Homo sapiens: one gene and its partner. The protein of the gene in region 1 interacts with the protein of each later gene in a pairwise test. Each region holds a gene or a part of one and is shown in the gene's direction. Other genes may lie near its edges.

Region 1 (3,749 bases):
AATTCAGAGTATAGCATTTCTTTGTCCCTCATCCTACATTATTGTTGTAATTACTTTACTCAATATTAAGTATTCACTGAAGTTATTGAAGCAGTATGTATTCTTTTTAAAGTAACATTTTGTTTCAACAGGGTTTATTTGGTCAAGATACTCACTTGTAATTATTCCAAAAAATTGGAGTCTGTTTGCTGTTAATTTCTTTGTGGGGGCAGCAGGAGCCTCTCAGCTTTTTCGTATTTGGAGGTAAGCCTACCAGAGATATTTTTAAAACTGTTGCAAAAGCTACTTAGATGGCACTAATTTTTTTTTTTTTTGAGACGGGGTCTCGCTCTGTTGCCCAGGCTGGAGATGGCACTAATTTTTTTAAAAGATTCATATATAATGCTAAGACAAGAAGTATCTAAAGTAGAAATTTAACATTTCTAGAAAAGTCTAGGGGTTTACAAATAAGTTAACCAGTTAACTAGTTAACTGACTAAAATCAGTTAAGCAGTATGTTACCTAGTTTTTAGATTTAACTGTGCATCATTTAGATGGTTAACCATCTCACATAATCTCTTTTATTAAGACAACATATACAGTTTATGATTTATTAATTTCTTATGTAAACCTTTTATCACTTTCAATTGTATATAATAAATTGGAACTTAAGTGTATTGTTATGTAGTATTGGAAATGATACGTAGAGTGAGGTCTTTGCTTTCATTGGAAAGTGTTCCATGAGCACTGGAAATTTTTAAACTATTTACTCAGTAGTTAATATTGTCAGTGATTTATGATAATGACATTATGATCAAATATTTGAAATCAGGATCTTTTGAGAAACCTAGGAGGTATGGTTGGCTTCATGGAATAAGTTCCTTCTTATGCTTTTATACTACTCTCCATTCCATTATAAGCTAGGAGGAATAGTAAATGAAGCCCAAGGTATGGTAGAAGGGAAGGAAAGACTATGGCTCTGTGGTTACTTCTTTGGATTGAGAATTGAGGAAATGGTCCTTAGCGTTTGTGAACTTAAGTGTTTACAGGCTGTTAACCCAATAGCCTGCCTGCATCACAGAAGTATATTTTACCTTAGTGGTTAGAAGTATATTTTACTTTAGTGATTACTTTAGTATATTTTACTTTACCTGTTGATCTTATTCTTAGGAAAGGTGCTTTGCGAGTATAAATTTTAAAATTCTAGGTGACCACATTTTACTAAATTTTATACATATGTTCACAAGTTTGTCACGTTCTTGTAGAATTCCAGAATGAGAATATTTTTATTAAAATAATACTTTTGCACAGGAAACTATATGTCAGCTAAGCTGTTAAAAGTTTTTGGCAGGCCGGGCATGGTGGCTCACTCCTGTAATCCCAGCACTTTGGGAGGCCGAGGCAGGCAGACCACAAGGTCAGGAGATCGAGACCATCCTGGCTAACACGGTGAAACACCATCTCTACTAAAAATACAAAAAATTAGCCAGAAGTGGTGGCGGGCGCCTGTAGTCCCAGCTACTCGGGGGGCTGAGGCAGGAGAATGGCGTGAACCCGGGAGGCAGAGCTTGCAGCGAGCCGAGATCACACCACTACACTCCAGCCTGGGCGACAGAGTGAGACTCCATCTCAAAAAAAAAAAAAAAAAGTTTTTGGCAGTTGTGCTCTTATTATCTGAAACAAAATCCAGATGCAAATGAACTCTTTGAATCCTTTCCTTTCTGCCTGTTTCTACCTGTAAGCCCTCCGGGAAGATTCTGTTTACAACTGTATAGCTACTTGACCACCAAGAAAGAAGAAATGGAGTATGCTTCCCATTCTCTCCTTACCATAAATTTGTCTATTATTATTGATGATTATTTTTCTTTCTGTTTTCTTTATAGATATAACCAAGAACTAAAAGCTAAAGCACACAAATAAAAGAGTTCCTGATCACCTGAACAATCTAGATGTGGACAAAACCATTGGGACCTAGTTTATTATTTGGTTATTGATAAAGCAAAGCTAACTGTGTGTTTAGAAGGCACTGTAACTGGTAGCTAGTTCTTGATTCAATAGAAAAATGCAGCAAACTTTTAATAACAGTCTCTCTACATGACTTAAGGAACTTATCTATGGATATTAGTAACATTTTTCTACCATTTGTCCGTAATAAACCATACTTGCTCGTATATACCCCCTGCCTCCTTCTGTTCCAGTCAGCCAACATATGTACATAAAAGAACACACAAATTCAAGAAGTTGGAAGATTAAATTATCTGCTTATTTAGTGTAGGATGGTCAGGTAGCTAGCTATAAGTGAAAGGAAATTTTGCTGAAGAGACTGAGAAATGGGTAGTGGAATGACTATCAAGATGACCTCAAACTATTTAAAAACATTTTAACTTGCCATGAAGAATCTTGATGATTTTTGTATAAATGTTGTATAAAATTCTTTTACAGCTACAGATTTTTAAATAGGATCATTGTAAAGATTAATGAGATAATGTTTTAACATAGTGCCTGGTCCATGATAAGTGTTAAATTTTTCAATTACCCTCAGTAACTGATAATGTAGCAGAAAATACTCTATATTCAGACAGACCTGAATTTGAATCCCAGCTCTATGACTTATCTGTTGTGACTTTTTTTTTTTTTTTTTTTTTGAGACAGGGTCTCGCTCTGTGGCCCAGGCTGGAGTGCAGTGGCACAATCTCGGCTCACTGCAAACCCTACCTCCTGGGCTCAAGTGATCCTCCTGCCTCAGCCTCCCGAGCAGCTGGGACTACAGGCACACACCACCACACCCAGCTAATTTTTGTATTTTTGTAGAGGTAGGGTTTTGTCATGTTGCCCAGGCTGGTCTCGAACTCCTGGGCTCAGGTGATCTGCCCGCCTCGTCCTGTCAAAGTGCTGGAATACAGGCATGAGCCACCATACCCAGCCTATGCTGTGACTTTAGACAAGTTAGGAAAGTACCTAGCAGAGTACCTGGGACATAAGTAGGTTTTCTGTAAATGTTTGTGACCTTTGGCTCCGTTGTGAGGAGAGACTGAGCATACATTACTCCACGCTACAAATAATTAACTATCTATTTGATTTGACTTTCAGTGTGGAGTGCAGAGCTTTTTTTCTAAAAGTGCTAATAAAGCCAGTCCTCATTAAAAATATAGTCAGATGAGTCAGCAAAGCAAGTTATTTCAAAATTTGAAGAAATGAGACAAAACAACTTTTTGAGTAATACTATAACCTATGAAAATTTGGCAGTTAGCAATTGAAAACCTTGTACTTTATCATCTGTCCCTTAACCATGGCCTACCATTGAGGAGAAAAGATTAGAGAGCTTGACATAGGCCACAATGAAGAGGTTCTGAAGAGTCAAACTATTATTGCTTTCATTTCATAAACCACACTGTTAAATTCATTTGTGTGTTTGGCATGGGTGTGCACACATGTGTTTCCTAGGTTAAGCATTTAGGAAAAACATTATGAAATATGACATAGACACAAAAAAGTTTATTAAAAATTTATGTGAGCTTGGTGTTTCACTTCCTTTTCATTAAAACCTCTTCTGTGCGGGGTCTCCTAAGCCCCTCTTGTCAGTCAAATTTGTTGTAGCATTTAGATACAATCATAGGCAGTCCTCCTTTCTTGTTTCTCAGAAGTTTCATTGACAAACAACCATCACATGCTTCTTTTCTTTTCTGCCCCAAAACTCTTAATCTATCCAATTTTTTAATCTTAAAAATTAAATCTTGGCCAGGTGCGGTGGCTCACGCCTGTAATCCGAG
Region 2 (3,749 bases), on another chromosome or scaffold:
GTGAGCTCCAAACAGGTTAAAGACTCCAGGGTCATGTTTAATTCTTTTTTCCTTTTCCCCATCCAACCCACTTCCAGAGTGTTGGCTTTTGGGTCTACTGCAGATGGTTGTTGTGAAAGACAAATGAACCAGGTCTCTGTGGTTCTTAACTAGAAGTCTGCTTCAGAATCACCTGTGTTAAAACAAATAAAGGCTAAACACAATTTAAAAAAAGGACACCCCTAAGTGCTACTCTAGGTGGACTGAATCAGAATGTGGAGCCTGATCAGAATATTCTCTCCCTCATCGTGCTCTGTGAACTGACCAGAGAGGACTCCTGTGTTGTTCTCTGGCAGTTTTCTGTCTGCCTAGCCACGTGGGAGCTAGTGGATAGGCAGACGGGAGCCTTGCTCCTGAGTCTTCTCAGCATCCAGCCCGGGGCTGATTGGGTTGAATGTGCATCTCCAAATGCATCAAATGGATTGTATCTTTGTATTTTTATTTTATTTTATTTTTAAGACAGGGTCTCATTCTGTCACCCAGGCTGGAGTGCAGTAGTATGATCTCAGCTCACTGCGGCCTTCACCTCCCAGCCTCAAGTGATCTTCCCCCTCAGCCTACTGAGTAGCTGGGACCACAGGCATGCACCACCAGCCTGGCTAATTTTTGTTTTATTTTTTCTAGAGACAGGGTCTCACTATGTTGCCCAGGCTTGTCTCAAACTCTTGGGCTCAAGCTATCCACCTGCCTAGACCTCTCAAAGTGCTAGGATTACAGGCGTGAACCCGGCCCTTTTTTCTTCTTTTAAAAACTAGGGACAGGGTCTTGCTCTTTCACCCAGGCTGGAGTGCAGTGGTGCAATCATAGTTTACTGCAGACTTGAACTCCCGGGCTAAAGTGATTCTCCTACTTTGGCCTCCCAAAGTGTTGGGATTACAGGCTTAAGCCACCATGCCTGGGCGAAATGTATTGTATCTTTAAGAAGTATCTAGCCTGCCATGTAATTTAGGGGATGTGTTTGAGCCATTTGATCCTTCACATGATGGATCTGGTGGTGGAGACGGGGGTTTCTAATGTACAACTGTCCCCTAATATATTAGGTTGGTGCAAAAGTAATGGCAGAATAATCCAATAATCCATCAGAAATTGGTTTTTGGACTTCAAGAAGATGTATACAACATCATTCTGAACTGACAGCCTCAGTTCAGAGCCCTCCTGAACCACAATGGCCTGTGAGGCACAAGACTCCGGCTCACTCATTCGGCCTGGTCCACTTACTTACTCTAGCGTCCATCCCTAGTCAGTGGCAGGGCTGTAGTTGGCTATGATCATGTATCAGTTGCTCATCCAGTGGACGTCCAATCAGTTAGTTGGCCATTCATTCATTCATTCATGCAGGCATCCAGTTATAAAGACATCCATTCACCCACTCAACAGAAATCTGCTGAGAGCCTACTACGTGCTGGGAACTATTTTCACATCGGAGACAAAACAGAGGGTGACATGAAGAGCACGGCCCACTTGGAGCCTACGGAGATGGCGTTGAGCGGTTTCGCAGGAGAGCTCCTGCCCCGGAGGATTAATGCCCAGCACCTGGCTCATCCTCCCCACACCCCTAGCTCTTCTCCCGCTTTGCTCCTTCCAGCTGGGGCTGAGCATGGGGTCCCAACCCCGCTGGTGAGAAGCTCGAGGTAGGGATGAAGCGGAGAATGGAAAAGGTGACTCGAAAACAAGGATATAGCGGGAACGTTGTAGGAAAGGTGGCGTGGAGAGGCGACCCTAGCGTGGCCGGGAGCGTGTTTCCAAGTTGCGGCGAGCATCCTCTTTGGGGGAGGGGCGGGAAAGGAAAGGAGGGGAGGGGGACGGACGCGGCGAGGCGAGGAGGGGGAGATCCAGCCTCTAGGCGCCGCAGCTCGGCCGTTCTGCCCGGGAGGCTGGGCTCTCAGGACGCCGGCGGCGGCCGCAGGGCTGGCGGCTGCTGGGCGCGGGGCGGCGCGGGGCGGCGCGGCGCGGCGGGGGCGCGCGGCAGGAGGGGCTGTGCGCGGCGCGGCCCCCGAGCGCACCGGGCCTGCCGAGGAGCGCGCGCCCGGCCGGGCTCGGCGCCGGTTTCCCGAACCTGGGCGGCCGTCGGGCAGCCCCCTCGTCCGACCATGGCGACTGACAGTGAGTGCGCTCCGGCCGCGGAGGCCAGGGGTGGGGGGAGGCCGCGGTGCCCAGGGTGGGAAGTTCGATTTCAGACGCTGCCTTTGTGCTGGCTCGCGGCAGCAGCGGCCGGGTCCCTCTCCGCTCCTCACCCTTGGCTGCCTGGCGGGGCTTGAAAGGGCAGGTGGCCCTGGCGGCGCGCCCCGCGAGGGATGTGGCAGAAGGGCGTGCGCCTGGCGCCGAGGCGGAGGGACCCTCGATGCCGTGTGGCAGCGGGGCCTGCCATCGCAGCCCTTCGCGGGCACTGCCCCCAGGCCCAGAGCCAGCCTTCAGCGAGCCGGGCAAACGAAGGCACTGCGCGTTTTTGGCGCTGTGAGTTCAAGGTTCGCCTCGAGTTCTGGGTCGGGTTTGTGCGTCTGCCTTTTGGGGATCAGGGTGGCTTGCATGGCTCGGCTGCCCGGTGGCCCACGGGCTGTATTCGCAGCGGGCAGCACAAGGCCGGCTGGAGACCGCATCTGGTTACCATGGTCAGTGGGTGGGAGGAGTGCCTGGAGACATCAGGTTGAAACTCTGAATGGAAGCGTTGGAAGGCGCTGGGTTGGCCTGCTTTTGGCATCTTGGCACCGCTGCTCTTATGGCTCAGTGCCTTTGGAAATTGGAATCCCGTCTGTGAAAACTGGTTAAGTTAGTTGCGTTTGAAGCCAGATACGTATTAGTGAAGCTTCAAAGGGAGTTCAGAGTAAAACCAAGTCACACCTGCGTACCTAGCATCCAAAGTCCCTAGCACAGGTGTGGCGCATGTTAGGGACTTCATTAGATGAGTGAATGGGGCTGGATGTGCTGGCTCAGGCCTGTAATCCCAGCACTTTGGGAGGCCGAGGCGGGAGGATCACTTGAGCCCAGGAGTGCGAGGCTGCTGTGAGCTATGACCCTGCCATTGCACTCCAGTCTGGGCCACAGAGGAAAAAAACAAAAATCAAATGGTGTGCTGGCTACAGAGGCCCTTTGGAAGGTATTTTTTTTTTTTTTTTTTTGAGAGGTGAGGAGGAAAAGAGATGGGAAAATGAGATGTCAAAATTTCTGCAATAATTTATTATTTTTCTTGTAAACAATCATCCCAGCCAAGAACACAGCTTTAGGATAGTGTGGAGAGCTTGAGTTTTTGTAGTCAAACAGACCTGTATTTTATCTCTCTAGAATTCCCTAGCAGTGGGACCATGGCACTGTCCTCAGTTTCTCTAAATTAGGACAAGGCTGTCATTCATAGCTCTTACAAGCGATGGGCACACAGGTGGCCTTCAGTAAATGGTGGTTGTCCTCTCCCTGCTGTTTTGCCATCATCTGATATGTGTGGGGATACCAACATGCTTTCCTCCTTTTTAAAGAGAAAAATGTTGATCAGGTGTTTCCAGTAAAATCAGCTAATTTGGGCCAAATTTCCCTTTCCTCAGCTCTGTTCATTTATACAAAGTGTGATTCCATTCGTGTGTGTGTGTGTTTAGAAAAAAAATTATGGTTGAAGCTTTACTTAACAAAGTAAGACTCAACAAAGAAGGAGATCATGAGATTTGGCCTTATTGTGTTATTAATGAAAAACAAAGGCAAAGGGGTTCAAAGTATCTACCAGC

The links.
Region 2: the proteins of MPC2 (region 1) and SYT16 interact in binary tests that used the Homo sapiens proteins (3 or more experiments, as listed by UniProt).

What each region holds. Positions count from the first base shown.
Region 1 is NC_000001.11:167,916,473-167,920,221, reverse strand, and holds the end of MPC2 (mitochondrial pyruvate carrier 2), read left to right. Parts: intron 1-131; coding exon 132-243; intron 244-1,862; coding exon 1,863-1,899; 3' UTR 1,900-3,547; downstream 3,548-3,749. UniProt on the Homo sapiens protein: Mediates the uptake of pyruvate into mitochondria.
Region 2 is NC_000014.9:61,810,669-61,814,417, forward strand, and holds the start of SYT16 (synaptotagmin-16), read left to right. Parts: upstream 1-2,034; 5' UTR 2,035-2,129; coding exon of another isoform or gene 2,130-2,142; intron 2,143-3,749. UniProt on the Homo sapiens protein: May be involved in the trafficking and exocytosis of secretory vesicles in non-neuronal tissues. Is Ca(2+)-independent.